Linked DNA regions of Homo sapiens: region 1 is linked to region 2. The links come from fine-mapping of genetic effects on gene expression. Tissue or cell type: whole blood. Region 2 holds a variant in brackets; the other region holds the start of a gene. All regions are shown on one strand. Distances are from middle to middle.

Evidence for each region. PIP is the estimated chance that this variant, and not a neighbour inherited with it, causes the effect. A credible set is the group of variants that fine-mapping cannot tell apart.
Region 1: it holds the start of LINC01781, and the variant in region 2 is the best candidate, but not a certain one, in a credible set for the expression of LINC01781 in whole blood (TOPMed, PIP 0.56).

What each region holds. Positions count from the first base shown.
Region 1 is chr1:80,527,357-80,544,426 of GRCh38, reverse strand. It overlaps LINC01781 (long intergenic non-protein coding RNA 1781), which reads right to left and starts at 8,672. Exons shown (of 3, transcript NR_125941.1): 1 at 8,485-8,672.
Region 2 is chr1:80,645,696-80,662,765 of GRCh38, reverse strand. It overlaps LINC01781 (long intergenic non-protein coding RNA 1781), which reads right to left. Exons shown (of 3, transcript NR_125941.1): 3 at 15,978-16,203. Among named protein-coding and RNA genes, the nearest start is that of LINC01781, 120 kb to the right of the region's middle. The variant C/T (reference allele first, on the strand shown) is at 9,942.

The DNA of each region.
Region 1 (17,070 bases), 120 kb after region 2:
TTCAACACTTGGCAATGTAACCCTCCATGGTTCAAGTGTTGTTGGGTTGGCAAATTTTTGCCATCAGTGCTCTTTCCATTTGCACATAATTAATTAGTAATAAGTGTGGAGATTGTATTATGACCTAGTTATATATCTCTGTGGAAATCTGTGTATTGAGATAAAATGATAATACTAGATAGAATGCATGAAATCAATCTCAAACGCCATTTAAATTTTGCTTTTCCATTTATAAATGTACTTAGTGAGATGTATCTCATTAGAATTTTTTTAAACTGTTGTTACTGAATATGCTTTAAATATTATGCAACATATTGATATTTTGAACATGTATCTCAATATCTTTATATGTGAAATATCACCTCTAGTGAGATTATTATTCATCTAAACAGTTATCAAAAACTACTTGGATCTTTAGGAAAACTTTTTTTTGCTTACTCTTCTCTACTTTAATGCATATCAAGTTTATTAGAAGTCTGTAAACCACATACCTTAAATAAAATTATAGACTTATGATATATGATCCTTCCACCTAGACAAACTGACTAAATTTATGAACACAAATGGTATCCTTCCTCATTATTTGTGGAACACCCCTGGTAAATTTGTCTGATGACTTGTGTACATATAAGAAGAAAAAGCATTTGTCATTGGAAAGGTTAACGTTATTAAAATTTTTTCAAGTAGCATTTTGTAAAAAGGTTGTTAGAGATGGGACTGTGTATATGTGTATATTTTATAATTTATGTATGTAAATTAATGAAGTGCTGCGATTGCATTTAAATATGATTTCACTGAAGCTCATCCTGTGGAGAGGTAGCCTACACCAAAGTCTTAACTAAGAGTGACTAAACTAATGAAAATAAACACAATTACTTTCACTTTTTTTTTTTAAAATCAGCCAATGCTTCTACTTTCAGTCACAGAAAGGCCTCATGTGATCTATAAACTATGTTTATTTTATTAAATACCTATTCCTGTGTCAGGAGCACACATTCAGTTTCTTTTCTTTACACTCATCTAAAAATGTTTCAAAAATTCCATCCTGTGATTGCTGCATAATTCCAACACTTGCTGTACCTGATATTCTACAGGATATCCCAATTTCTTGAGTCACCTTATGAAAAGTGTGCTAAGGGAAATATATTCATTTTTGTTATTGTTTTGAAAAGAGGATCTTACTAAATTTCAACAGAAACAGCTTCTAAGAAAAAAATAAGAAATTATGCTGCAATGAAACTTATCACTTAACAATAATTACTAATTAAAAGATCATCAGCACTTTTTTTTTAATGGTTCACTCAATTTTAGCACTCATTCATTTGTTCATTTGCTTCAAAAATAGTTAGGTGTCTACAGGTGCACGTTGTTGTGTTTGTTGCTGGGGATGTAGAGGAAAGAAGTCCCTGCTCTCTTAGAACTCAGTCTTTCAGGACATTGGATATTAAACAAATCATAACTCTGCAAAATATTTAGTTACAATTATGATTTATGTTACAAATGGGAAATACAGAGTGCTGTAAAACATACAAAAGGGAAACTTACTAGATCTCTAAGAGGGGCTCAGAAAGACTCCCCTGAAGAAGTAACATTTAAACTAAGATTTGATGAATAATAGTTATTCAGGCAAAAAGAACAAGGGGATGGGTGCTCCAGGGAGATGGAACATAAATAGAAGGCTTGGACTTTCTCCCTCCACATAGCAAAAATAAGCATAGCATCTTAAAAGTTCAACAATAACTACTACTATATGAATTGCTTTAACTTTAACACAAGAGGATTTTATAATAGCTGTACATGCAACATGAAGGAAGCCATAATGGCATATAATTTATTTGTCTTTGAAATAACTGGATTCAAAGAATACCTTCAAAGAAACATATTTCCCATGCAAACACATATTCAATTGTGGGACAATAAATATGTATTACACAGTGCTCAAAATTTAGAACTTCTTTGCGAGTTCCAAGATGTGACTCATATATACATCTACTATGAAAAGAAGATTACACTCTGCTCCATGGAATGTCATTTAAGATAGAGTAGAATGAATGAACACTTGTAAGCAAGTTAGAAAGTACAGGTCCTAGTTGCAGTTTTACTGTGACCAGCCTAAGTTTTCATTTCTTTTTGCAGTGTAGGTAACATTATCTCCTTACAGGGACACTATGAGAATAAAATGTGTAATGTTTGTTTTGAATTTTGAAAATTGGTATAAACTATACAAATGGAATATTTTATCATTTTTTTCCCCTGAAAATTCTACACATATTTGGGTTTTTCTTATCTTTGATCAGATGTCTTCCCTTTATTGGAATGTTTGCAACATGTACTCCTTTTTTTCCCCTAAAGGTCCAATTAAAATCCCATTACTTTTTTGAGGCTTTTTTTCCACCATAGAAGTTATTTTCTCTACCATCTCTAAACTCTCTTAGCACTTACAAATTATCTGTGACTGGCATTTATTGACTTGTATGCTTATTTTAATGTGTGTTTCAAAAGCATAGTATTTTGATGTTGAAAGGGAAATTAAAGTTTGGTCCGATAGATTTCAGAGGTCGGGCTTTCCTTTGAATCATTTCAACCCACTTGTCAAATAAATTTTGCTTGAACAGCTCCTCTGACAGATAGCTTGGTATCCTTTGATTAAGTATATTTTACTTCTTGACATCTCTAAGAGAAAGTTATTTGTTTTTAATTGAGACTAAATATGTCAAATTGCTTTCATACCTGGCAACTATTTCCTGATCCTTTCTACCATCGTCTTCCTTTTTCTGGGCAAAGCAAGCTTTCAGAGTTTCAGGTATTTTAGTTATACTTATTTTTCTTGCCTAAAAATATTCCAGGAGAATATCTATCTATCTATCTACCTATCTATCTATCTATCTATCTATCTATCTGTCTATCCATCCATCCATCCATCTATCTGTCTGTGTGTGTATGTGTGTGTCTTATATTTAGAACTAAATGTATTATTTAACTACAATAAAATGATTATCTTTTGTTTTAAATATTATAATTCTGGCATTTCAGCCTCAAACTTCATTACATTGTTGATGATCATATCAAGTTTATCTTACTTTATATTAAATCCACATGTCTTAGTCTCAGGTGATTCTGCTAAATCATATATACCCACCATAGATTACTGCAATATCTTTTTTAGATATAATTTCCAGGATGCTAAATTATGTTCTGTTACTTCTGATGGTGAGTAGTAGAGAGTAAGCCAGTAAACCATAAAATAAAAATGTTATGTTTTCTTTTCTTAAATATACTTCAAGCTGCTTACAATGAGAAGCCATTTGCTTTTTTACCTGAATTCCATTACATAATGAACTTCAAAGCAAATAGGTGCCCATTAAACACCTAAGATATGATGATGATGATGATAATGAAATGATGATTTGTTTATATGTATTTATTGTTCATATATATGTATGTATAACTACATTTGCATATCCATTGTGAAAATACATAGAATCACTGTCCAAAGGATGACCTGCTCAAGATTTTATTAACATATATGTGAAGATGCATTTGACATACTCATAATATTGAGAAATAATAAGACATGCCCTTTCTGTAAATGGCAAGGAACACATACTTATTTGAGTCACTAGCAGGGATGAAAGATTTTATCATATTGTGAAATACTTGATGTTTTGTGTTTCCAGCACAGTAGTATATCTTAATCTTAACATAGTATAGTTAACTGAATATATTTGACACATTTTCCTCTTTCTAATGTTGTGCTTAGTTTTTCATGATGTGTAGCCATGAGACCTACCTTATTTATCATGTATTTCCATCAGTGCTTTATTTTCGACCTTTCCTTCTTCAAAAGCAGAAAAAAATCAAAGAGGTTACAAAAGGTAGTACTCCTTTATGCTATATAAACTTGAACCAATCTAGTGGATTTCTGCTCTACTAGTACATCACTTTCTCCTTTTATCTTGGTAGAGGGTTAGTTTAAATGTCATGATTAAACAAAAATGTTTTTGTATGCTGGCATATTCCCAAAGTTCTGTATCATGTTCAGATCACAAAGATTAAGGCATATTTTAACAGATAATGCAATCTTCTGCACTTTAAGAAAAAAAATTTAAAAAACACACCAACTGTTTCAGTCCGCAGTGTCACAGAGAACAAAATCTGTTCTACTTTAAAGACAAAGGGACTTATCACAGGCAATTAGTCACAAAGGCACACTTTAGAACTTGACCATCAAGGAGACTGCTGCCTCAGCCAACCATGATTAGGCAAGATGTGGAATCAGAAGGCTAACTATAGAATTGGGACATTTCAACTATATTTGCTAGTCCAGAACTGCACACCAATATTACACTCTCCAGCAGCAAAAATGGACACTTTCTGTCCTGCCTCTCATTCCATGAAGCTCTAAATCGAAGTCTTACTTCCAAAACCATAATTATAAGGGAAACTATACATTGCATTAAAAAAAAAATCTTGGCCAGGCACGGTGGCTCACGCCTGTAATCCAGCGCTTTGGGAGGCTGAGGGGGGGTGGATCACTTGAGGTCAGGAGTTCAAGACCAGCTTGGCCAATATGGAGAAACCCCATCTCTACTTGAAAACACAAAAATTAGTGGCCAGGCGCAGTGGCTCACGCCTATAATCCCAGCACTTTGGGAGGCCGAGGTGGGTGGATCACTTGAGGCCAGGGGTTCGAGACCAGCCTGGCGAACGTGGTGAAACCCTGTCTCTATCAAAAAATAAAAAAATTAGCTGCACATGATGGTGTGTGCCTGTAATACTAGCTACTCGGGAGGCTGAGGCAGGAGAAACGCTTGAACCCAGGAGGCGGAGGTTGTGGTGAGCTGAGATTGCACCACCGCACTCCAATGTGGGCAACAGAGCGAGACTTCATCTAAAAAAAAATAACAAAAATTTAAAAATTAGCCAGGCTGAGACAGGAGAATAGCTTGAACCCTGGAGGAAGAGGTTGCAGTGAGCTGCAATGAGCCGAGATTGCGCCACTGCACTCCAACCTGGGCAATAGAGCGAGACTCTGTCTCAAAAAAAATATAAAAATAAAAAAATCTTTCCAGTCTTTTCAGCAGAAGAAAACATACTAGAAGGGGATTAGTGTGCATATTAAGCAGGATGGTCTGTATTATACATCACATCAAGCATTTATTTTCAAATGTTCATGTTGACTGATATTGAAAATAATCCTGTGTATTAAGAAATATCTATCGTAATTCAATCCTAGATTATTAAAAATTAGATGTTCACAGCTTCTAAAACTAACTTATTTCCAAGTTACCCTTCCTGTTTTTCTCTCTTATCGTGGGAGAGGAAGTGAGCCCCCTGAGGGGAGCAACATTCTAGACAGAAATAAAAACAAGGGAAAATAATTTTGTCTGTATTTATTTTTATTAAAGAAAAAAGAGGAAGAAGAAAAAGAAAAGAAAAGGAATAAAAAAAATAGCACAGGTAAGCCAATGGCACTGGAGAAGAGTAAGTAGGAAATTAGAAGAAGGTGAAGTCAAAGAAGTTATGGAAGAATAGATTAAAAATAATCTTGTCATCAAAAGGAATTTGTCTCTTTTACTCAGATAGGAAGCCCTTAGGGTTTTGAGCAAAGAAGGGATGAACTCACTTGACTTCTATGTTGAGAACAGACTGCAGGGAATACATCATGGGTATAATAAGGCAACTAGTTATCATACTAGTAATATGGGAAAACAATGATAGTGAAATGGATCAGGTTGCTATCAATGGAGGCAGGTTTTAGAAGCAGTGATGAGTGTTTAACGTACATTTTTAGAGCATTTTACATATTTAGAATTAAAAGTAGTAGACACTGTAAATTGTTTTGAAAATTAGAAATAGATTTAACATGTAGGGCATTTGGTTAACACAATTTAGCATTCTTTACTGATCAGAAGATGCATTGTCAGTTCATGTGTAAGAAACAAAATGTCACTCAAAATTACAAATATATTGTTGGGTCAGGTATAGAGGAAATATAATTTCCAACTTTTGAAATATCTTGGCTGAATTAAGCAATCTATACTGTTATAAAGAACAAGATAAATCTTCAATGTCTCAAGTAAAATACCTTACTATTGGGAAGACCATCTGTATCAATATCAGGAATGTGTATATGGATTTCCAAAATTTTTGGTGATAGTAGAGAAAACTTTCCAAGGATTCTTCACTTCCAGATGACACTGTGCAACTGAGTGACCCCAGCCAATACAGCCTATTTTACTGATGGCTGACAACTAAGATTTTACATTTAAGTATCTTATTTTGCAAGTCACTTTCATAAAATGTTGAGAGTGATTTACAAAGCCTTTATGATTTGGAGGAGAAAAAATCAGTCAGAAAACAAAAACACATCTCCCTAAATAACAATGTTATTTAAATCTTCTACCATACAGAAACTACAGGTTTCTAAGGGGTATGAAATGCATCTTGATCTACTAGTTACTGAAAGCATAAAACTAATTAAAAAATAGAAAAAATAAATATCCTTGCCACATGAACCACATTTGATTTAAATTTGGCACTGTTAAAAATGGGATCAAGCACACAGAATTTCCAGTGTGTTAGATGCTAAGAAAGCCAGTTGTTGATAATCAGAAGTAATATGAGGTAGAAATTCTGTTAGTGAAGAAGACAGGTATAGCCTAGGATAATCCTGCTAATTAAAGCGTAACAGATTGCATGTCTTCTAGAAAAGAGGGATTCAAATATCAAATAACTTTGTAAGTAGCTGCTCAATAACTGGAGGTAACTGCAAGTCAGTGGTAGAAAGGAAGAACTGTAGAAGGAACCAATTAACCAGAGGCAGTTCAAGTTTGCAAGGACAAATCTGAAGGTTTCTCAAATAATCATGGGTTAATCTTAGCAGGAAGAAATTAAGAAACTAATATGTATAATATGAGCTTTAATCAATTTATTGTGAGAAAAGATAATTAAGAGAAAAGAGTTTTCTAACAAATGAGTAGGGGCATGCATAATAACTTGAAAATGATTAGGATAGTTCATTTGTATACAGTTCACTTCTCTAAAAGAAAATTAGGAAGAGAAATATAGAATATTAAGGCATAATAAAGATCTTATTGAATTAGTAACTGCATGATAGGTAGTAAAAGGAATGCAAGGGAGGTTTAGTTATTTAGATATATTAAGCAGCTGCTTTACAAATAAAATGTCAGAGGCTTAAAAGTGTTAACACAGTGTCAGTATCACCTCTACCCCTTACTGGGTGTTTGACTAAAGACTATGTCCTCAAACTTGCTGTGATCAGTTTTCTCCTCTATAAAGTAAAGTTTAAAATAGCATTTACCTCTTGGACTTGTGATACTTAATCTGTACAAAATGGTTAGAAAAGTCTGAGGCACTTAGGGAAGATTTGATAAATGTTAACTATCATCATCATTATTATTGTTATTTTAAATTATTTCTTTATAATTAAGCAGAATCTATTACGTTGATGATTGATTCTGCTTTCTACGTTATATAGAATCTGAATTAATATAACAAATATTTGTTGTTTGCCTGCATTATTTGAGACTCTGTGTTAAGTGCTGGGGTAAAAACTGACCAAGATAGACACAGTCATTCTCTTTAGGCAGTCTGACTGGGGACATGTGCAATTAAGTGAGTTGAAGTGGAAAAAACAAATGCCTCAAGAGAGTCAAATGTGGATAAAAGTGCTTTAGAATCGGGCCTTTTCAAACAGTAACTTCAGAGATCTGGCCTGGTATTTGTAAAGCTAAGGAAGCTTTCATTAAGAGGTAGAAGCCTTAGTTACTGCTCTTTTCTTAATCTAATTAAGTCTAAGGAAATATACTTTGAAAAAGTGGCTGCGAGATAACACATTATGCTGGGAATTACGATAGGAAAAAGAAAGGGTCCTGTGTAAGAATCTAATGGAGCAAGTAAGTGTTCTGGGAAGAGGGAGCGGGGTATGAATAATCACAGAAACGTAGTAAGAAAATTATATTCTCTTAATTAAATATTTTATAGGCCTATAATAGGAGTATTATATTAAAATACACTCTTTAAAACTTGTGATCTACTAAAAAAATAGAAAGATTGATTAATAATATTGAAAGCCTTAAGAACATAAACACTGAGATATGATAACTATTATTGAGGCTGCCTTTGACAAAAAGAGGGAAAAACATTTTTAAAACATAAAAATAATTGAGGGAAAGAAAATTCTACTTTGATATAAGAAATATCACAATAATGTTTTATCTCGTGTTTTTTTTCATAAACTCCAATCTTAACAGGATTACTATATGACATTACTGTAAAATATCTTTTCTCTTCCTTCCCCACTTTCACCACTCCATACAAGAAAGTGCCACATGTGGTCATAATCTGAATAAATGATAGAGAAAAGCAGAATCTACTCATAAAACTCAAAAAATAGAAGTCTTAGAAATAAGCATAATGTAAATTGAAACTAGATGTCCCATTTTAAAGACAACACCTTACCTTGACAAACGCTGTCAGGAAACACCACATTTATTTCAGAGCAGAACATTTTTTCTCTATTTCTTCCCTTCCATCCTACCTCATGAGGAGAATATTATACCAGTAAATCTCAAAATCATCTGGAATATAATTTCAATACGTGAAAAAAATCTGTAATTTGTCAATAGTCTATTTAAAACTAACACTCAGAAAAAATGGCAGCACACTAAACATTATGTGTCTAGTTAGGAGCACTTAAGACATCATTGTTGAAGTCCTTTCTGTTAACATTTAACCTCCTGGGGTTTAGATAATAACTTATTCATTAAACTGCTAACTCCCTTTCCAGCAGGATTTGCCTATGAATTTTTAACTGGGGCCGAACCTCCAGATGTCTTCCTCCTCCAACTAAATTCTTACCATTTCTTTTCCATGCTGCTCACTTCTTGCTTCCCATAATCAGTTAGCATCTAAGAGAGCCCAGTTTGTGTGGCTCCCCAACTAAATATATCATTCTGAAATTATTCTCTCCACATAAGTTCAGTACACATTAGGGCTATAAAAATATTTCAAGTTCTGTATAGGATGTATTCTAGGCTCATATTTACTTATTTTTTTCTCCATGCTAATTACTCTGTTTTTCACATTATTGAAGTAGAGTAAAATGGTCTCTTAACACCCATCTGTAACTCTATTTTCTTTTATGTTCAGATTCCCTAAATAGCCTCACAAGATGATCATTCCTTTCCATAACCTCTAAGAGAAGATCTAAGAAGGAGCTATGAAATCAAAGACCAAAGATCTGACTCTTCTGTGAGTCACTCTGCCCTCTACAGTGACTGTTCATTACTTAATTTTACAGCCTAGTGTTGGGGTCTGCCTTCAAATGTTCTGTGTCGTGTCCAACACACTTTGTCATTTTCTTTCTAATCCTTGTGATTATTATTGTTGTTATTGTTAGCTTCCTATGTAAAACTAGTTCTCAGCTTGATGATATAAAAACTATTTTAGCCATAAATGTATCTCTTGTATTTATATAAAAGGAAAAGGAGTATTTTAAACACTTCTGACAACTAATAAAGCCAGGTGTGTGTGTGTGCATGTGTGTGTGTGTGTGTGTGTGTGTAGAGAGAGAGAGAGTGAGAGTGAGAGTTTAATCTAGGTGTTAACCCTGGGGTCTTGGAAAAGTTCCCATTTGAGTAATTGAATTTTTATTAACTCACTTCCTCTTGCAGGTATTTTTCATTTAATGCAGCACAGTGTTCTGTATTATTTCTGGATGCTAAGTTGTTGCTACATTTCTCCCTGTGGTGACTACATTTCATCAATGAATAAAGCCGTAACTGATACATGAAATCATTTTATTTTGATATATGTGCTTTGGAATCCTCCCCTATTTTAAAACAGATACTGGAAAAGAAAAGACAGATGATAGCAATATAGATAGAGGAAACAGATATCTGGGGGATTCCTATTATTGAAAAAATAGTCTTATTTGGTTTTGGTATTATCCCCTAAATTCTGTAGACTTTTGTTTCAGAAAATAAAGAAAATGAATGGATTCACTCATTTATAGGTGATCCATTTAGGGAGTCCTTGGGAAACAATAGTGTAGACTTAAAAAAAAATGTAATAGGAGATAGATCTGGCTATTTTTTTTTCTTGTCCTCTGAATAATAGCTGGTGACAACACAGATGTTAAACACAAAATATTACAGGGATTAATTCATAGCGCTCTAGTTTTCATCCAAGGTCATGTGCAGTGCAAACAATAAGTTCCAGCCAGGCAGTCTGTAGTGGCAATTAAGGACCACCTAGGGTGGGGGTGAAGCTGAAGGTGGCTCTGACCCTAGGAGGTCTACAGTCACTTCAGTGTACCTCCTTGGAATGCCTTCTTGTTCCTATAAATTAAACAAAAGTGAATTTTCTCCCCTTTAGGGAACAAACAATCCATGCCTCAGATCCTGCAGCCTAAGCATTTCCTCCTTTAGAATTGCAACTGAATCTCCTCTAAACAGCAATTAGCATTTTAATAGTATTAATAACATTCACGATTTTAACAATCTGAAGCTTTCTGCTTTTTATTGATGTCTTTTGTTGCAATTTTGTCTAATAGTGTGCCCAGGGTAGCAAAATATAACCAATTAAAACATTTGCCAAACAGCAAGGAATCTGGAAAGTTTCAATGCTGCTCGACTAAAAATGAAAATGGTTGTATGAAAATAACATTTCCAGCCAACAAGACCAGGGGACATACTGGCAGTCCTTTATGTTACGATTCTGCTTCAGAACTAGGGTAAATCGTTCAGTGTTACCTTACTAATGTCAGATTAGAAAAACCAAAGCTGGCAGTCTCACATAGAGTCCCTGGAAGCCTCAACTCCATATAGTTTACAGAAAGCATAAGTATACAGAAAACTGGGTAGTTTTAGTTTAGTATAAGATTGCACTATTTGTATGGAATCTTAATTAGATTCCTTGGTTATATATTCTCAAAACACCTTGTGTTTTTCTTTCAATTAACACAGCATATCTACTTATACAGTAAAATATTAACATTAAATACTTACTATGTGCTAGTCAATGAGTCAGCAATTTATCATGAATCATTTAATCTTCACAATAACTCGAATACTGAGGTCTATTATTAACCTTTCATTATAGACACTGAAGCTTAAAGATGTGATTTGTCCAAGGTTAAAGAGCTAGTCAATGATAGAGCAAAAATACAAACCCTGGTCCCCCTGCCGTCAGCCTATAACCTAGTGTGTACTTTGGAGGTATAGGGAGGAGGGGGGTTGGTTTTATTTTGTTTTGTTACAATGTCTGCCTCAGTGACAAGGCTCTAAAATTGAAGAGAGAAAGAATTGTTCCTGTTTGCTTCACTGCTTTCTCTCTCTAAATTAGCATGGTGCTGGGTGCATAGTAAGAGACAGCTGGATCTTTCCTAAATGAATGAAAAGTATGCATAGATTTGCCTTGTCTAACTAGATTATCATTGGGCTTTGTTTTCTTGCTTGGTGTCATTTATATCTTCTATGTTCCTGATTCCTAAAGGAAGTATACAGAAGTTTGAGCATTTATTGGTGCTTTATCTTCTTGGTAATGTTCATTTGCTTCTAAAGGTGCGTGTTTATATATATGAATAATGTTATATCCTCTGTTCGTTCCAAAAAAGTATTTAGGGTATACGGTTCTAAGAATTTATTCTGCCATTTGTGAAAGTTCTTGCTTTCCACAATTAATCATCAATTTCTCTATTTCCTAAATTTCTTTTTACTTTTTACTTTTTTTGGACAAATTATTCCAATTCTATTACTCATCTGGCTATCCCATTATGTCAAAAGACTCTATATAATTTCCTATATTTGAAATAAACTATCACTATTTTAATAGGCTTTATATAGTAATATCCTGAGCTGAATTGGGTCAGATTTGGGTAAGAGCAACACTAAAGTGCTCCAAAACCACTTCTTGTAGCTCCTATTCCTTCCAAATAAATACTTGTGCTTGTGTATACACTAGCCTGAGAGAAAAAGGTCACCATAAGAAATGGTTTTGGAGCATTTAAGTATTGCTCTTACCCAAATCTGTTGCTCTTACCAAATTCAGCTCTTACCAAATAAATTCTTAGGATCATATACCCTTTGATAGTCATGCTTCTCAAATTTAAGGATCAGAATCACCTTGGGGGCTTTTTAAAATACAAGTTGCAGGGCCCATATAGGAAAGATTCTGATTAAGTCTGGGGTGAGACTTGATTATTTGTATTTCTAACAAGGTCTCTCATGAGGCTGCAAGATTATACTTTAAGTAACACTGAACTATATAGAACTACATTGGAAATATATAAACTATATTAGAGCAGTGGAAGGTTCAGAAATCAGACATTGAGAAGAGTCATAGTAATGCTTCTGATTCTCTGCTATCTGATGCCTCAGCCTCAGTAGACCAGTCATCTAGTCCTAGAGGATGCCATCAAGCAGTGTGATGCTCTTCAATGTACCTCTTACAGGAAATATAGAAAAGTAAAAAAAAAAAGAACAGCTAGCAATTCTGCATCCAACTCTTGTATTCCTTCCACAGTTCTGGATTTGAACACGATATCTAATTCATGACCTTGTTTTTAAACATATTAAGCATGAAACAAATATATTTTTATTAAACATATTAAGCATGAAACAAATATATTTTTATTATTTTTTAGCAGATGGCTATTTAATATTTTTATTCAGTTTCCTACTCATAGTGGTTGCTGTTGCCAAACCTTTGACTCAGCCAACCATGCTCCTTTCTTTGATTTATTAGGCTTTAAAAAAAAACTTTGTCTTTGTAATTTATATGATTAGGAACTCCAGGAAGAAATGACAGTCCAACCCATGGCTAAGTATATGCTCTGTACTTGAGTAGTGAAAAGTTAGTCCTCGTTAGACTATAACTCCCAGCCCAAAGGTCCACATTAAAACAAAAGCAACTAAGAGTGATATCACTCATGCTGATCCAATCTGTGTAGAGGAAAAGAAGTGGGCCTGACTTCCATAATTTCCTTGGTATAACCACAACACAGCATTTACTTCTTGGCATTGACTCTACTGAGTTATTGAATCTTTCACTTGACAGGAAGCTCTTTGATGGGAGGAAAAAAAACCTCATCAAACAAAACCACAGTTTCTTTATCATTGTGTCCCTAGTGCATAGCACAGAATTTAACTCATTGTGGGTGCTAAATTTCTATTTACTAAATTAAAACCAATTCCGTCCTTGAATGACAATTTCTATTCTAATAATATTTTAACATGGGATTTGAGTACCTTCAAATTCCAAGGGAAATTGTGGTAGAGAAGAAATAATGAATTTCCACTTTAAAAAGTTCAAAATTTTCCATGTTTTGTGTGAAAACTTTAAAGGCATTAAAAATTTTATATTTATAATAATTATCATGAATACAAAACTCCAAAATAATTTTGTTGCTATTCAGCTTTTAAAACAAGCTTCCCTTATTCTCTTTTGATCCATTAAGATCTGAATGAACTCAACACCTAACTTTTGTTGTTACTGTATGAAGTACTAGGCATTCTGAAGTTGTACATACTTTACATCTAGCTTTTGCTAGCTAGGGAGCTCATTAACAGTTACTTCTTCTTGGCGAATAAACTGCCCCATGAGAGTAAAAGAACTGCTTAATTCATAAGTTCACATTCTTTTAAGAGGTCACTTAACCTTCTAAGTCAATTATAGGACATTAACAATACTCTGCCTCCAACAATTATTTTTCTAGGTTATGTAGATATAGCTGTTTGAGGCCTGACCAGATATATTCAGGCTCTATCACTCAGGTCTGTCTGCAAAGGCAGGGTTAAATCACTTTCTACTGAGATTCAAGATATCAAGGGAAACACTTCACAGTTATTTTGACTGCTGTAATATCAATATTCAACATGATATATGGAAATAATGAAAAAAACTAATAAAATTATTCTTTTTTATTAAGCTAAGGCAGCGATTGTGGTAAGTGCAAGAATACTCCAGGCATCTGAAGTATTCTTTTAAAAGAACAGAAAACATTAATAGCAGATAGGTAAGTTTCCTCTTTCTTTACAGTATATCTCAGTCCTTTCAAGAGTGAAATGGAAAGAAAGGTGCTGATCTTGGCATAGTGTTGTTGCATATTAATAGGAGCAGTCATAAAATGACTAATAATAAATGTGTTAAGTATCACAGAAGTAGAGACATAGGCATGGTCCAAACACATTAACACCTGCATTCTAAATTAATCCTTTTTCTTTCCAGAGGATTATAAATATGAGCCATTTCAAGTGTAGACTTCCGAACCATATAAAGTAAGCTTCGGCAATGTCAGTCTCTCTTAGAAAATAGACGAGTGGGAACCTTGATTACATTTATCCAGCAATGTAAGGAGATGAAAGTAACCAATACCTTAAGCCACCTAGGGTTGCATATTTTGACTAGTATAACTCTAAAACTTGAAGAAATGCTTGGAATTAATATTTTAAAAAGTTCTTATGCATCAAGAAATGTGATTCATCTACTAAAGTTTAATCTGTAATTGAAACATTATTCTTCAAGTAAAAACCGAATAGATTTAGGGCATGGTTACTATTTTTTAATGTTATTGTTAGAACTTTGAATAATGTTTCAGTAAAGCCACTTAAACATTACAAAAGCACACCACACCTGATACTGCGTTGTCAGCCCCATGTTCTATAATTAGTTGGTGTTTTACCTGATACCTTATTAGCTTTCAGAATTGCTATTTAATTCTTTGCTTTGAATTTACAACATTCACAGAGCACTGCTGAGGGATTTGGAGAGTACTTAAGAAATATGTATTATAAATTGACACCCCTGTATCAAATTTTGCCATTTTTACTTGAAACTACAACTCTAAATTGCTTATTTAAATAGTTTTAGCTTATGTTCCAAACAAACGATGCCTTCAAGGGAATGGAGAATTAGAATCTTGCTACTTTAAAAATGTACCCTAGAGGTAGAGACTCCACATATGGTTGTAGTAACCAAGTCAAAGAGCCTGGCCCAAGTGGCAAATCTATTACTTTGCAAAGAAAGTATCACACTGGCGATGGCTATGAAAATCTGCACATTGTGCTATCTTTATGGAGTGCACGAATGTAAAGTCAGTCAGGAGATAAGGCAATAACTTGGGGTTATTTCTCTCCGGAAAATATATACCTTTCTGTTGTTGCTTTCTATGATTTTTTTATAGTAAAACTTTATTTTGGGCCGGGCACAGTGGCTTATGCCTGTAATCCCAGCACTTTGGGAGGTCAAGGTGGGCGGATCACCTGAAGTCGAGAGTTCGAGACCAGCCTGACCAAAATGGAGAAACCCCATCTCTACTAAAAACACAAAATTAGCCAGGCATGGTGGCACATGCCTGTAATCCCAGCTACTAGGGAGGCTGAGGCAGGAGAATTGCTTGAACCCGGGAGGTGGAGGTTGCGGTGAGCAGAGATCACGCCATTGCACTTCAGCCTGGGCAACAAGAGTGTAACTCTGTCTCAAAAAAGGAAACAACTTTATTTTGGACTTTTGATTTTGACAGATAATTGAGAGATCTATGTTTCCTTTACGTGTTTTCTCACCTACAATTCCCAGTTTCTTGCATAAAGAGCAACCTGTATCACTATGATATTCTTCTAATATTCTCTTGGTAAAGCATCTGCATCATGTGGTGAAAAGTCTGATATCTGTTGCAATTGGTTGGTGTCAGTGCTGTAAGTTTTTAAACATTTTGAAAATCATCCTTGTAATATGACCATGGTAATAGCTAGGCAGAACAGGGAGGCCACAGTACTGCTCTTACTTAGTAGTGCTAGGTTATAAAATAATGAAATAAAATTGTATAAAGTTAAAATACCCTTAAGGCTCTATGCATTGCATAGCTCTAGAATTGACAGGAAACAGCATGATGGTTACCACTCTAGTAAGCCCTGCACTTTCTCATACATTCGTCTACATCATATATACACAGTTAGTAACATGTCTCCAGTGCAAACCAACTGGCAAGAAACCTAAAGAATAAGAACATGGAGAACAAAAATGTCTTCTAGTGTATCTTCTTGGTCAAGATCATTGCACTGTTGATAATGCAGCTATCTTGTTGATAAATCCTTTACATAATTACATCTCTAACTTCCCTTTTTTGTCATCAATAATGAGTCTAGCAGGATTCATATGAGTCCGTTGCCTCATTTCAATTTACTGAATACTTGAATGTGTTAGAGTCATACATTTGAAATGAGCTTTATCAAAGACCGAGATTTAGATAATAAAGCAGTTAGATTATATTTGTCCAAAAGTTCTTCTATTATAGCCTCTTTAAATTTCAACAAATGTAGATGCTATAAAATATTTAGCTTTCTGTAAAATATTTGTATCAGCTTATGCTCATTATGAACGTTTTCATTTCAGTGGGTAAATGAAACCTTTGTAAGGCACAACAGTGTTCAAATATCAATATATTAAGCAATGTATTATGTAAATTCATAAGTAAAACATTTTCCTTTCATTATTATAAATATATTTATTTAATGTAATGGTATTAATATTGTGTTTATCTTTTTAAAGAAAATGGTAATAAACTGTTGTCAGAGGCATATCAAACAAGTTTCTGCTGGGCCCAGGTAAATACAACTTAGGCGTTATCAATTGAGAATGAAGACATTATTTTCCTTCACTGATTCTTTAAAAGAATTCTAACCATCATTGTGCTACTCAGTGTTTTAGTTTCTTTGTTGAGCTAGTGGGAATTAAAAAAAATACCATACACATAGTGATAAAAAGTAAATTATTTATTGTTTAAAAAAGTTTTGAATTTTTATGAACCTTTTAGGTATTAGGACTTATTACTTAAATGATACTCACTAAATAAATGAAAATGATAAATGTTGAGTTACAAGGGACTCAATTCTAAACTATTTTTCCAACATGAAAGAATGTTTCTCTATTATTTCCATCAAAGCATTGTTTAAATAATGATCTTTTTTATTTATCCTTGTTTCATTTAAGCTTTGAAATAAAGGAATCTATTAAAAAATCCTTCAATCCTTCAGTTGGAGTTAAATT
Region 2 (17,070 bases):
GAGAAAAAATTGCCCATAAAAATTTTTAAATAAAACTTTTTGATATTTCATACTTTGAGTTTTCCAAACCTCATCAAGTATTAAGTAAAAAGAGGTTTATAATAACAGGAATAACTAAATTTTTTCTGACTTCCTCCCAAATCTCAACCAATATAGAGTAGGAGTCCCCAGGAGCATCTCAATGAGCTAAAAAAAATACTTTGTTCATACTTATCAACTTCTCTTCATTAATTTTTACCATTTTATTAGCTACATAGATGTCATTCCTAACTGTTGCAAAAATTGCTGGTGCAGTATGAGGCCCACTGTGACAAACAGCAATGGTGGGGATTGGCATTATTTAATACCACCTCGAATTCCTAAATATGGCTCTGAAATCTGCATCTATAATCTTGGCTTCTATTTTAACTTCTAGACTTTAACAATCTGCAGGGCATCTCCAGCTAGATCTTATAAACCATACAAATTTCTAGTGCAACAAATCAGAAGAGAACTCTATAAATTTCCAGTCACACCCACATGGCCCTGCCCCTCATGGCCCTGCCCCTGTTGAAGCCACCAGCATCTTCATGCCTTCAGGGATTCAAAAGCCATTTTCAAGTCCAAATATTTAATCAACTTTCACATTTAATAGGAAGCCAAGCCCTGTTCATTTTTGTTCCATGGTATTTATAAAGTCTATCTGCTAGTCTTCATTCCCACATTATTGCCTTAGGTTATATCCTTTCCTATTGTGATAACGTCCTAATTAGCCTCCTCATACTCCTCTCGTTTTCACATTTAATTTAATCTATATGGTAGCTCCATAATTTCCTTTCTTCAACTGAGCTTTGTAATTTTTGTTGCCTACAAAATAAACCAAAAAAAAAACCCACCCCCACAAAACAAAATGTAAACTCCCATTGCATTTAGGTCTCAATGCAACCTGATCTCCAGCCTATTTTTCTAGATTTATTCCCCTAGATCTCCCATTCACACTCACACTTTGGGTTTTCCAGTAATGGAAAAACTCACTCTTCATCTGTATTCATCTGACAGTCACTTAGCCCAACCACAGAATTCCAATACCTCAGCCTGAAATGCTGAGGAACCATTCCTGTACCACCTAAATTCTTTATTAAAATTCTGCTCAGTTTACTCTAATTAGGGCCCAAAGAGTATGGAACCTTATCCAACAACAAATAGAATTACTTGCAATGTTCCTATAGCATGTAATTTTTAATTCTATTATATTGCAGTCTGATTTGCATCATAGTGACTATCTCTCTTCCTATGAGTGTGAGTTCCTTCAACAAAGGCATCACATCATCTTCATCTTTGTACTAATATTTCAATTTCGTGGGGGCAGATTCAGAATGAATAATTGTTATGATGAAGTTAATTAAATTATAGATTGACCAAATAGAATTATTGTAAGATTGAGTGAGTGGATCAAGCTCAGAGAGGACAAATATTCCCCCCAGACCTTTTGATCACAGTGCCTCTGATATTAGCAGGAAAGCTGTTCCCACGACTATAAGAAGCCACTGAATCAGGAAGGGGCAGAACACAGAGCCCCACTGTCTTTGCCCCAATGGGGAATTCTTCCCACATCATGGCAGAGAGTCATCTAGTTAGGATCCTTGATGCTTCTGCTACAAACTTTATCATCAGAAATGATTGCATTAGGTTCTTCTTCTCTTGCCATAACTCAGTTTCAAATCTAAAACTTACAAAATGTGTTTGGCAGACACTAAATTACAACAGAACTCCCGAGATGAGAAGATTGGGAAATACAGTTTGGATTATCTAGCCTTTTCAGTACAGGATAGCACACCAAAAAGTGATTGGAATGGAGGTTGTGTGGGAGCCAAGGCACAGTACCTACAAAACTTCTGCTGGAAATATTTGTCATCCGTACATACCCTTCATCCCAAATTTAAGCTTCCAAACAGGAGCATTTGGAAACACAATATGATGCCAGCTAACATGATGCAATATCTCTCTATAAATTAAAATGAGTTCTAGCAAGCACTGATTTCATCTCTGTGTGATCATTTCTCCTCTAATTCTGTCACAACCCTGAACCAAGGATAAAATTATAAAGTTAACCACCACCCACACTGAATATAAAATTATAGGAGAAAGGAAGAGATGAAGGAAAAAAGTAAAGTTAGCTAATAAAAATATACACATAACAGAACAAGGAACAATATGTTAGCCACTGAAGACCTCATTTGTACAGCTGGTAGTGATATCATAGTTGGTATTTATAATTTTGGTCCTGCTCCTTCAAGTCCGTTTTCTACTTGCTTCTCATCCAGTGCCTAACAGGAGTTTGGATGGGTAATTCAAACATTCACATCTGAATGGTCTGAGTTCTTAGAAGACTTCCTTATATTGAAATGCTACAGTTTTGCCATTATTATTATTATTTGCAATGGATATGACAGTTCTATCAGGCACACAAAAGAATGCACTGGTTTCCAAATATTTCCTGTGTCCCTAATGCACAATGGTCACCTTATTTCCCCTGATTAATGAGGATCAATCACACTCACCCACCTTGTAACATTCTGTGTAAATACTGAATAAATATCATGAGAAACCTGGAATGGCCAGGTGGCAAGCTCAAGTCTGACTCCAATTGAGCTATCGTTGTGTTCCCTGATGGAAGAATTTCTTCCTTGAGTACTAAGATCTCCAAGCCAGGAGAGGTCAAGATCACAGGAATTGAAAGCAGCATTTTGTAAATGGGTCATAAAGTGAAACAGTGAGAGGTGACCCTCCTACCCCCATTCTTACCTCCCAGACTCATGTATTTCAGCTGTGACAAAAACAAACAAACAAAAAACACCATTATGCTTGTTGGTTAAGAAGATAATCCATATGTACACATCAACAAATCATATGAAATTATTTTCTAGTTGGTAACATTACTGAGCAGTACATATAGTCTTCCACTCTCTTAAAAGGCTCTCTGACTCTGGATGATGGAGTACATGATATGACTCTTTAGTGCTGTGGCAATTATCCCCTTGCTCTGCTTTTTTTGCTGTAAAGCAAAATTCTTGGTCAGAAGGAATCATATGCGGATATTTTAGAGTGAAGAATGAATGCAGTAAACTTAGGAATGTTGTTTGTAGAATCACTGTGGGCAAAGAAGACAAATCTGCATTCAGAATAAGTGTGTATTTCACTATGGGCAAATTGTTACTTATTCTATTATCAAAAAAAGAAAAATACACGTAAGCGACATTTTACCGGGAGGTAGGTGTTTTCTCCAAGTTATGGTGTTATATTAGAGGTTCAACATTCGTTTCTCTGCTAGTAAACAGGGTACTTAGGCCATGAAATGTAACATTTATTCCAGATGTCCATGTGGCTAGCTAAAAATCAGGAATTCTATTACTAAGAAAGGGAGAAACAGATGTCAGGAAGAAATTCATAGGCTCTGCCAAAACACCGAATCCACTGATGCAGATGTGAGTCTTGTCTCAGTTTAAATTCAGGTTATTTTTAAATTGTTATTTACTATAGTTTAAAAATAACCTGCATTTAAACTGAGGCTAGACATAACATTGATAAAGCATTACAAATTAAATTTTAAATAACTTTATTGAGAAATGGTACTAGGTCATTTCAAACGTTATCTCATATTTTTATAATAATTCAAAGAACCTATTTTAATATAAGCATTTAAAATATTTGCTTTAATATAGGCCTTTAAAAGACTAAGATATTTTAAGGATGTTGCCTGAGATCAGAGGGTCAGAACGAGAAGATAAGCCCAACACTTTTCAAACTCTACAGCCGTTTCTTAGGCTGAGATACTGCTTGACTTGTTATGTGATTGGATAGAGTAGGTAAAATTTTGTAAAAGTTTGCAATGTACTCAGTACTGTGGTGCCAGGCACTGTGTTAGCATATCATGTATTTTCTCATTTAGTCATATTGACCAAATGAAACAGATATTGAAATTAAATAATTTAAAAATTTAACTTTACCCAAGATCATATAGCTAATATGCGGGACTCATCCCAAGGCCATAGGATATCAGAGTATGTATTGCTAAATACACACAACTCTGCTTTCAGAGGTGAGATTAGATGGCACCAGTAACAGCTGAAATACTGGAATAACTTAAGAGTTAGGAGAATGTAAATCTGAACTATTATCATAAAGAAATACCTATTTCTCATGAATAATTGGATGAATAGTATAAAAATAGTCTAAACAAAAATTCAATGTAATTTATATGCTGCAGAAGTATTGAAGCATGAATTTCAATAAATTCTTTTAAAACAGAATTATAGTGAAAGTGAGCACTAGACATCATGTGTATCGTCACCCTAAAGAGGAAAGTCATTCACTTTTATATAAATATATCTTTATAAATTATTCCTTTTAATAGCCAATTTGTGACCTAGATTTGTACTTGGCAAATAATTGAGAATTGGCATTTAAATCAGACATTTGTGTTTAGAATTACAATTTTAAAAAATAATTCAACATCATTTCTGTGGAATAAAAGTCTAAATAAATATTCTAACTTATTTTGGGGGTTTTTAAAAGGTTAAGGAAATCTTATTGTACTCTAAATGTAGAATAGACTCATGTACAACACAGATCAGAGCAAACATTTTATCAAAAAAAAAGTCAGTGAAGCAGCCCTCTAAGAATATTAAAATGCTTAGTTTCCATGGAATGTGTTTGACAGTAAGATTTTTAAAAGATCTAAGAGGCTGACCTTTCTCCTCCACAAACTAAGTAGACTTTTTAAAATGAGCACATCTGGTTTATGTTCCTAAACCTCTGGCCTTTAAAAGCTTTGTTCCCAATTCACACAAAATACCATTCAGGATTGCTTGACACAGTGACCCTTCCCTGTAGGTGGTTAGGTGAATAAAGTGATTAAGTAGATTCAGGAATTTAGCATATACGTAGCAAGTTAACATTTGCATCCTGAAGTGATTAGTAAACAGTACTGTTCATTGGGGTATTTTAAGCAATTTTACTTTTTGAAGTTCTAATTATAAAATATTACTGTTTTTCAAAAACCAGATTTATCTTTCTTGTAAACAATTATACTGGTGCTATTATCTGGTAATGTAGAATAAAGCACATGCTGTTATAAACTAAAGGTATTTTGTTTTATTTCAAAGCTCCAACGCTGTTACTAGAAAAAAAAAATACTGAAAGGGTGGTCAGGTTGGATCCATAAATCTAGATGGCCGTTGAACATTTAACCAATTCTTTGGTACTCAATTGAGTTAAACATTAAATGGTGCATTGGCAAGGAAGATTTTATTTCTATGAGGCCCACTAATAAAATACTCTGAGTTATTTGTGTAGAATGTAATTCCTTATGACTTTGCCTTCCATTTGCCTCGAGGATATACCAGTTTAAAACTGTTCAGCACACTACACCATGCATAACAGGTAATCTGCCTAATTAAATCCTATAAGGATGTTCTCAGTAAAATGCTGAAGAGCTCCCATAACCTCTGCTTCACCCTCCCCATGCACCAGAGCTTCTGAGATTGAGAAACCCCAGCCATTAACTGAACTGTTTACACTTGAAGCTCAAAGTCTACTTTGCTAGAATGGCTCATTTCACATTTTACAAATCTGTTTTCTCATTTATAAGCAGAAAGTAATTTGTCAATTTTTTAATATTATAATTCTCAACTTGTTCTGAGAGAAAAGGATCTAACATACAACTGCAATTCATATTGCAAAAATCATACTGTGACTGGAACTGCTATATTCAGAGATCTAATAAGATTTACATCTATATTTTGAGTGCATTCATTTGGTATGTTTCAATGAATTATTAATTATGACCAACAATAAAATATTATTTTGCTCAGATGCACAGCAATAGGAAAGATGCCCAAGAGAAATTTATCTGACAGCTCAAAACAAAATGGCCAAAATTCACTCATAGGTTACTCATCCAACGCAGCATGACTCATATTTGCCCATCAAAAGCACTCCGTGTGTGTTTTTCTCAGCTTGTCAATGTTTTGTCAAGAGAATAAAAGACAAACTTTAGCCTTCAGATTAAAAAAAACGTAAATTTAATGATTAAAAATAAAATATGATAGATGAATAATTTTTTGGAAAGCTCTTCAATTATACTAGAAATTGATAACAATGATTTTTATTCAATTAGCATCAATATGGCCAGAACCATCACCCCATATAACCAAACTACATATTATATATTTTATTGACCTATTTCTGTTGACACAAAAATACTACCTCTTTTCATATTCCCTTCTAATCATCCTTTCTATTCTACTCAGTAAAATCCTAAGAGAGAAACCTCATGCAAATTACTGACTCATGCTTTTTCTTTTATTGTACACATTGGACTGAGTGCCAAATCAGTCCTACATATTTACTCAATCTACATCTTTCAAGTTTGCTCCTTCTTTTTTAATCCTTAGGCTGTTTCAGGCTGGGCTTTTGGCAGTATCTTTTTTCTCAACTGTACAAACAGCACACGAATAAACCCTCCAGTCTGTTGCCTGGCAGGTGTTCTAGGGATATTTCAGAGATGGCCACTAGGGCACTGGCTAGTTCCTGGTAAGCTTCTTCAAACCACTTCAGCTGAGTTGCCAGCATCTAGCTGCTAGTCACTAGTTTCTCAATCCCAGAAAGAAGTTAATCATAAATCCCAAGAGATAATGAACTCTGTGAAGGGCAGATGCTAGCTAAACATATATATACCTGATTTTAGATCCAAATAATTGGAGACAGATTAGCGTGTTTGCTAGGAACACTAACATTCTAGTACAAAAGAGCTGGGTTTAATTTCCTGCTATGCAAGGATCTCAGAGAAGTTGCTTAATTTTGTGTCTCAGTTTCTTCATCTGAAATAATGATACCATTAGGTTTTATATAGAAGACTGAGAAAATGTTTGTACAATGTTCTCAATGCTAACAAAAATCAACTCTCAAAAGTTATAATTAGATCAACTCTCAAAAGTCAGAAATCAACCTTTCATATCAATATAGTTATGTCATTACTTAGACTATATCTGCTATTATTCTGTATTTAAATTTTCACAAATCACTCGTGATCTTCAACCTGTACTTCAAAACAGGTATACTGGATTTTCCACTTCTCTCCAACTGCTACATTTAATTTTGCTTGTCTCTCTCTTTTCAATCACCTTTTATAAGAGCCTTTGAACAGAAGTCACAGACTGCTAATTATGAGATTCTTTTAATCTTTAGATTTTTTCAAGAGAAGGTAAAAACCCAGAGTTTTGTGTGACAACTCATATAAAAATTGACAAATAATGCAAAAAAAAAAAAAAAAAGATTAAGTTTGGTATTATTGGCCCACATTAGCTCATGGCAAAACTCAATTTATTCCCTTTATTAGCAGGTTACCCATCATAACTCAAATTGCATACCACATCTCTGTTATCTATGTACCTCTTAGAGGCATTTAACTTTGTGTTGTTTGCTTCAGAACCTTGTCCTAAGGCTAAATTATGTGTCTAAAATGCCTGTATATTAGGTTTCTTTTCCTGTTTTTCTGCTTACTTTGAAAATATATATTGGCATAGCTTATCATAGTCCCGTTTAGCCATGAAACATTCACAAATATCCTGTCTTAATTCCCTATTAAGGATTTTTGTTTTAACCTCAATATGTAATATATGCATATTCATGGATTCTAAAATTCAACATAAATCAACAGACTTGCTCTGATAGTGAATGATCTATGCAATAAGAACTGCAATTCATATTGCAAAAATCACACTGTGACTGGGTCTGGGTCTGCTATATTCAGAGATCTAATTAAACCTACAAGCGTATTTTGTATGCGTTCATTTGGTATATTTCAATGAATTATTAATTTTGACCAACAGTGAAACATTATTTTGTTCAGAAGTACAATAGGAAAAACACAATATGAAAGGTAATACAATTTATAGAAATATAAAACAACACAAGCCCTAATAATAATGAGGAGACGGGCAAGTTTAAAATAAAATTTGAATACAAGGCTAAATATACTGAGATAAAATAGTAATGGGAACAAGAACACTGGAAGCACAGAGGAAAAAACTCATGAGAAAAACCTGGGAAGGCACCTGGAGACAGTGACATTTGAGCCAGGCCTTGAAAAGTGGTGTTAATTTGGAGAAGACAATACAGAAGGGGAATGGGAACAGCTGGTGATGTGGTTTGGCTGTGCCCTCACCCAAATCTCATCTTGAATTGTAGCTCCCATAATCCCCACGTTTGGTGGGAGGGGCCCAATAGGAGGTAATTGAATCATGGAGGCGTGTTTTTCCCTTGCTGTTATCCTGATAGTAAATAAATCTCATGAGGTTTGATGGTTTTATAAAGGGCAGTTCCCCTGCACACGCTCTCTTGCCTGCTGCCATGTAACACATGCCTTTGTTTGCCTTCGCCTTCCACCATGATTGTGAGGCCTCCCCAGCCATGTGGAACTGTGAGTCCATTAAACCTCTTTTTCTTTATAAATTACCCAGCCTCAGATATATCTTTATTAGCAGCATGAGAACAGACTAATACAGCTGGATACATGTGGAGAAAGGCACACGTGCAAGATATACTTGAAAGTTAGGAGAATCAGATGTTGACGAGGAGGTAGGTGGAGGATAGTAGAAGATAACTGTGTTAAGAAGATGGCCAGTAGAGGTTGGGCACGGTGGCTCACTCCTGTAATCCCAGCACTTTGGGAGGCAGAGGTGGGTGGATCACGAGGTCAGGAGATCCTAGCTAACATGGTGAAACCCCGTCTCTACTAAAAAGTACAAAAACTTAGCGGGGCGTGGTGGCGGGCGCCTGTAGTCCCAGCGACTAGGGAGGCTGAGGCAGGAGAATGGCATGAACCTGGGAGGGGGAGCTTGCAGTGAGCCGAGATCGCGCCACTGCACTCCAGCCTGGGAGACACCGCGAGACTCCATCTCAAAAAAAAAAGAAGATGGCCACTAGAAATACCATGTGGTCCGGGCGCGGTGGCTCACGCCTGTAATCCCAGCACTTTGGGAGGCCGAGGCGGGCGGATCACGAGGTCAGGAGATCGAGACCATCCCGGCTAAAATGGTGAAACCCCGTCTCTACTAAAAATACAAAAAATTAGCCGGGCGTAGTGGCGGGCGCCTGTAGTCCAAGCTACTTGGGAGGCTGAGGCAGGAGAATGGCGTGAACCCGGGAGGCGGAGCTTGCAGTGAGCCAAGATCACACCACTGCACTCCAGCCTGGGCGACAGAGCGAGACTCCGTCTCAAAAAAAAAAAAGAAATACCATGTGCTTGACTGCTTGGCCAAAGTTAAAGAACTTCATTTTGAAGGCAATTAGGAAATCACCGCAGGTTTCTGAACAAAATAGCCAAGAGACTAGAGTTTTATTACAGAGTGGTACAGTAAAATTCCACAGGCATAAGGTAACAATGAACAGGATGAAGGTACTTGAACCCTTTCCAGTACAAATGTCAACTGATTTAGAAACAAATATATATCAGCCAGCATTGAAAAGATGACAAGATAGGCATTCTTCACCAGCTGTGAGAAATATAAAAAAGCAAAAATGTTGGAGTGTCAGGACCTAGCATAATAATTGAATGTTGTTTTCCCGTTATGTCACATAATTTGAAAAATTTGTAATGAGAATCCATTCTCCTCAATGTTTGTTAATGAATATAAGTGTGCCAAGGTACAGTACCAGATTAAACATTAGCCTTTCTGTGCACTACAAAAATGGCCACGGCCGTTCAACAACCTTTCCAAATCTGATCATTTGTCTTCTATTTTTAATTGTGAATATCTGACTTTTAATTCATACTGTTTACAAAACTTTTTAAATGTTGCGATAATAATATGCATCTCTCTTTATAATGTTAAAACCATTTCTTTTTTCAAGTTCACAGAAAATATTATTATTCATATAGTTTATCTCTTTGACATTAA[C/T]ATTTGCAGGATCAACATAACTAATAAATGTTCCATCAAAAATAAACAGACTTTCTTACTTTCAAGAATACTATAAGAGGTGTTTTCCAACTTGCTGTGTACAATTAATACTAGCCAAAGGGTTTGAAGCTTTTCTTATTACAAGTAAAAAAGACTAAAGAGAAAACTAGGGAAGTGAGATATTCTAAAAATGGGTCATATGTGTAGCTCCGAATGTCTACCTTTGACATAGATGAGTTTTTTAAAAAATTATATCAGAACGTAAAATAACTTTTATTCTTGTTTTTTAATTACTTGAAAACTAATTACATGTTCTTGATATCTTCGTTTAATATCATGCTCATAATCCATATGCTAGTTCTGCTTTACATTTGAGCTCATTTTATAATAAATCCTCATGACTGGGATCTTAAAGACACACATCTTATATCAAAATTTAATGAAAGAATGTATTATGATTTTTCTACAGTTCAAAATTTTAAGATATTTGGTCCTGTTTATCCTTACTTTCCACCATTGACCAGCCATGGTTAACATAAACCTCATCCACAAGAAAATCTGTGGCATAGTTAAAGCTGTTAGAATTATGGGGAGAGTAGGCTCATCTAAATTAACTATAAATCAGAATATATCAGTCATCAATATCACCTATTCATTGTTCAGCTGCTCTGCATCTTTAAAAGGTGTGTTTTCTTTTGCCTTATGCTATGTAAGTACTCCATAAACATATATTTTCCTAGGCATAATTAAATGAAATATTTTCTATGTGGACAGATAGTCATCACTCTTTATCAAGACATGTGGACACCTCATGGTCATCTAAGTTGCTTTGGTTTCTAGTACTTGCCTCTTGCCTTGCTTCTTCATCTTGGCACATACGACATTTTTGTTCAGTTGTCTGTTTTTAGCTATAGGCACTACCTTTGGTTTATACGTCTGTAGCAAGAGACACAGTCATTCTGTAACATACATAACCTAATATTACAGTGTTTAATATTACAAACATTTGGACCCTGATCTCCACTAGAATATTCAGGAGAGAGAAAAAGTCATAACCTATCTTGCTTATTGCTGTGTCTTCAGCATTTTAGCTGGCTTTCATTGACACCACCCCAGTAGAAGCAGTGGGTATATTCCCTCATTTCTTCCCTGTATGTGTGAAAGTCTAGGTTCCTCAGTCAGCCTCCAGTAATACTTCAAACCTTTATATAACACCACACTGGAGAGGGTACTGGGGTACCTCATTATAGCCTGAAGAGTATCAAAATCTCAGCTCACCACTCAGCCTTTGCTGTCATGGGTGATGAGGGAGCCATATTTTTTTCTGTGGTATTTGACTGAAGTAGAGTGGTCTAAAAGTTATGTCATTCTGGGTTGCCCAGTTCCTAGTTATTTGGTTAGATAGAGAAAGAACATACTTTTGATGGTGATGGTGAGTTTTTTGTTTGTTTATTAAGTGTGCACTTTTTTGTTTGTTTTTTCTTTTTGCTCTGCACGCGTTGGTGTTTCTGGGTTGCCAACTTCTGCTTTAAGCCTAGGATATAGGAAGGAAGAGGAAAACACCAAAATCACCACTCTGCTGTTGCCTTGGTCCCAAAGTCCACAGCCAATCTGCCTTCTTATCTTCACTCTGTAGATCTTTCTTATGTTTGTTTTGTATATATATAATGTCTTGATTTTAAGTTATACTTAGATGGAGGAATAGGAAAAAAGTGTGTCTACTCCATCTTCTATATACTTGGGAGCTAAACAACACACTTCTAAACAATCCATGGGTTAAAGAGGAAATCTCAAGGATAATTTAAAAATATACATTAAGACATGAATAAACCTACCTGAGTAAACTGACAGAGCAATGAATGAGAATTGTTGTCTCAAAGGCATCTGAGGCTGCCAAGAGCTGACTAATGGCTAAACTACATGTGGGACTTCAACTAAGAGGTGTTGTTGCGAATAAGACTATTGAAAGCAGCCTCTGTCAGTCATCGCCAACATGTGCCCACTGATAGAAGTTGGAGCCAACAGAAAATACCATGGAGAATCACAAATTGAAACATAATGGAAGAGAATATAATAATGTGTTTATTAAAGAAAGTTCTAATTGTCTACCATAACCACAATAAGGTAGCTATTATGGATTTTTTTTGGATCGGGTATGCTTTTCACTGAAGAAAAAGAATATACTTTTGGCAGTGCTACAGTCTCAGTGTTAAAGATAACCCTTGGTAGTGTCTAAGGCCCAGTATTTATTCAGTGCACAAATTATACATATTAAAAGTTTAATATACAATTTCTACATACTTTGCACATTGATCAATAATATATAAAATAGACATTATATACCTCCAAAAGTAATTGGATATTAAAATTTAATTTTTTGTTTTATGCATTTTACACTTTTTTTTGTTTTAAAGTTGGTTCATAAATGCTAAGATCACTTTGCAATGATTATTATATAATAAGATTTCTTTCTCAACTGATATGCCTTTAAGCTTTCTTTTCTATAGATTCACATACAGCAAAGGAATCCACTATGCTCCAGGTCCTAGAAATGTCCTGAACTGCTTCTGAGGAAAATGGTCTTGCCTAAAGTCATGAGGATTTGAATAACTTCTCTAGTCGGCTCTTTACATACTTTCTCTACCAAATCACCCTGTCTGCACTCATAGCTGTCTGCACTCATAATCAAGAATAGAGGCTGATTAACAAAAATAGGAAATTTGATGGTTCATGACTTCAAAAACAGCAGGAGATAAGGTTTAATTGCTTGAGAATGTAATATTCTGGCTGATATACTAACAGAAAATTGTCAATATATTAAGCTGCTATTGGATTTCCAGAACCATTGCTGTGTCCTGATGACACTATTTACTATTAAACTTCTTCTATCTGAACAGGCCTAAACTCCAGGGCCTATAGCCAGGGAAGTGCTATGACTATTTGGATCACTGTAATTCCTGGAAATAAGAAAGAAAAGGCGATGCCTATTTTCCCAGTCTATAGTTTCTTTTATGCAACTAAGCAGATATGTAAGGCAAAATGGAATTATAATGACATGAATTATAAACATATTGACTTGTCCAAATCCAGCCATCGAAGCAAGCCATTTGTAGATATCTCCAGAGTTGTCAAATGTATATATTTGAATTTAGATATTTATGTAAAACTCAAACCCATGCCTTTATTTCTACTTTTAACTACATCTAGCTTTTTTTTTAGTGCCTCTCTGTGTGCCTTCTCAGTACCATCTTTGTGTGGCCCACATTGCTCATTATTTCCATATCAAAATTAGGCCTATACATATTATATACGTGGCATCACAATGTAGGAGGTGAAGGAGTGTCCTGGGTCACCTTGTTTGACATGGCTTATATGGTACTTCCTTAATGCTAATTCTAAAGCTAATTGACTTTATTTTCAAATATATGCAAATCATAACATTCTTTTTGTAAAGAAGCAAATTTTTACTTTCAATTATATGTTATGAGAACAACTGAAATTAAAATGAACTATTTTTTTCTCTTGTTATCTTTGTGCTATTGGTTCTGTTTCAGTTTTACACCTGTTTTTCTTCAAAAAGTCATCTACTTATTTCTCTTATTCTATTTGGGTGTTGTATTAGCCCGTATTCATGCTGCTGATAAAGAAATACCTAAGACTGGGAAGAAAAAGAGGTTTAATTGGACTTACAGTTCCAGATGGCTGGGGAGCCCTTGGAATCATGGTGGAAGGTGAAAGGCACTTCTTACATGGTGGCAGCAAGGGAAAAGTGAGAAAGAAGCAAAAGCAGAAACCTCTGATAAACCCATCAGATCTTGTGAGATTTACTCACTATCACGAGAATAGCTTGAGAAAGACAGGCCCCCATGATTCAATTACCCATCCCTAGGTTTCTCTCACAACACATGGGAATTCTGGGAGATACAATTCAAGTTGAGATTTGGGTGGGGACACAGCCAAACCATATTAGATGTTAACATACTAATATATGTTATTATTAATTTTCTGCTCTATCAGTGGGATTAAAGAATTCATACAATATAAGTAAAAGCAATGTCTATGTTATAGAAGGCAAATATGAGACCACTTACTTAGCTCTTCTTTCCAACAAGATATCCCATCACAAGCTCCTGCAATATGGAAATTCTGGTGATCTTTAAAATGGAGTATTAAAACTCCATTACTTAAGTTACCTAAGGAAAGCTTTTGTTTCTTGCACCCCAAAGCTCTTAACCAATGCAATTTTTAATTCCAGAAAGATACACTGTCCTTTCCTGCTAGAATTTTACTATTCTTTTATGAAACCTGTAGACTTGCTGGGAAAGATTCTAGTAGTAAAATTCTTCCTTATATCATTAATAATACCTACATTTTATACATATAAGGTTAATGTTTGCCTTTAAAATTTCTAGTACTTAGCTGATACTAGAAATAATTCATGTTGTTTTTAACATTTTCAAAATAATCATCAAAACATTTCATAAAACCTGTGTCTTCTCAAAATATTGATTCTATAAATATACCTGGATAATACTTTGGGGTATTAACTTATGTTTAATTCTTCTGCTTGTAATATTTTTTTCCCTTCACTCCACTAAGATAGTTGGTTAGCTCTGTGCTTTAGTGCCTCAAAAGAGGTATGTGGTGAATCTGAATGGAGTAGTAATCTATAAAATGTCCTGTAATTTGTCTTCTAATAATTTTAGTATATTACACAGATAGACATCTTTGGTGAAAAAGGAAGGAGAAAGGGTTCCCTCAGGCTCAAAAGACATTCTCTTAGCTGTCAAGAGGAGAGAGTTATATATGCTCTGGAGTGATAGAAGCTGAGGTCCTATTTTCTGACAATGTTCTGGTGAAGGCAGTAAGATCCCAGAAAGATACACTCCAAAAGACATCTCAGGCTGTAGTAACAGAAGCATCAATGATTCCGTCTCATATATTGTCATCATATCCTAAAGGACACTGTATGAAGTCAGCAAGTCTCCCAGACCTGATGAACAGGCACAAATAGGTGAATGGTAGATTTTCATGGCCAAGTTGGTAAACTGCTAACTGATGAACAGAGACTGCGACACATGATCCAATTGTTTTGATGCTGTGTAAGATCCAAGAACCTTGAACATGTTGTCAAGTGGAGGACTGGATAGAAGTTCAAACAATAATTAAGGTTAATTATATTCTTAGGGACACAGACTACACAGCAGAAGACAACTTACTTTAAAAAATCAAGAAAATGCATTTTCCACATATCTTAGTTTGTGAACTGAGATTTTTGTCTGCAAACTTTCATACGTTAGTCACGTTCATACCATAAAACATGACTCTATTTGATATTATACTATTTTAAATTTTCAATTGTTTAATAATATTTTAGGAGGATAGTAGGAGGTGTTTAAAATAGTATTCACATTTTATCTTTTATCCAGGTTCACAGGGAGATCACCACTTTAAAGATGACAAATTTATATCTTATTAAATATAAGAGTATTGTTTTGTTACACAGTATGAGTTGCTGTAATACCTAGGATTTAGACCTAAATCCATTAATTAATTCTATAAAAATGAGATCTTAAGAAATTTACACTTAAAGTGCCTAAGAATTTCAAGGAGAATCTTAGATTCTTTTCTTGATTTCAAAGTGTCAACAGTTGATGGTCTCCTGTATTCCTTTCCTCTCATGAGACCAAATGCTTCAGAGGAGTGACCTTCTAATGTGGTAAATTGAGATCTAACTACTAATTACTAATTGTTATTGCAATTCTTGACCTGATCTCTAGAGCTGGAAAGCAAATCCCTGTCTCTGGAGTGTAACTAGATCTAATAGGCAGCCTCTGAGTTGACGCAGAGAGAGCATATTAGCAATTGAGTGACTTTCAAAGTGTTACCTTAATGAACACCATTGGATGTAATGTTTTGAAGCTCAAACTAAGCGAAGGTACTTTCCTTTTCTCTGACAGTAGTTAAGTATAAAATTTATCTATTCCTTTATTTAGAGTGAAGAAGCACATTAGTGAAAAAAGTATAAGAAAGTTCTCCATTGGTACATTTTTAATAGCTTCAAGCTGTTAACAGTTACATTGGCCCAAGGTATGGGGTGGCACATGTTATGGTTAACTGATTAGTACAGAGCCTCTTGACATACAGACATTTTTCTGTTACTGGTATCAGCCATGAAAATGTATTTCCAAGCAATTAAGCCTTAACTCCTGCTGGTTTGGAAGCCATGGACCTTCAAATTCCCATTCAAATTATTCAACACCTAACATGGGTAGAAAAAAAATACAACTTCATTAGTAAAAGCCACAAAGAAATCTATTGATAAGTTTTTAAAATTTCTTTAACATGAGAAAAATGCAAAAACGTTCAGATTGTAAATTAGCCACACAACTTTAAAATGACCTCACTTTCTTTTTTCACAACTCTAAGGATTTACTTTATGAGGTCTTAGGTTTAACAACATACTTCAAAAATAATGTGGATAGCAAAATAAATATGTGAAAGGTTACATGTAGGGGAGCAGGGAGAAAGGGCAAAGAAAGCAGGATCATAACTATGTGGTTTTCACTTGTTTCCAATTCTTATCTGAAGTAGATATCGACTTGGCAATTCTAAAATTAGAACAACTGGATACTGGACAAGTAGAAATAGTAATTGCCAAGTGATCTCCATTATGTTTCTGAACAATTTCTTCTTCCCTCTCTCACTCTCACAAACGTTTCATAAGCCCTGAGGAGACATTTTTATAGAAGGTCTATTTTCTTATCTCTAAATGGAATAGAGCAGGAGAGTAATATAAGACAGGAATGAAGAGTCATTCTCATCAGAAATAGTTTTGCATAATATTGGGGGATGTTTTGTATGTTTTATTCTAGAGGGTTGGATTATCATTTTCAGTACCTTATGAATCAACTTGTTCCAGTATCTCATAAGCAGAGTTGCCTCTACAAAGGTAGCATTATACTTTCAAAACATTTATGATAATGAGAGCTAGACTTCACACATGTTAGTTAGTGGAAACTGGAGTATGTAACTTTACCAAACTATTTAAAGTGGAAGGCTCTGTTATGGCTCTGTTACTGATTTCCCTTGTATTTTGTTCACACTATACTTCTTAAGAGTAGTTTAC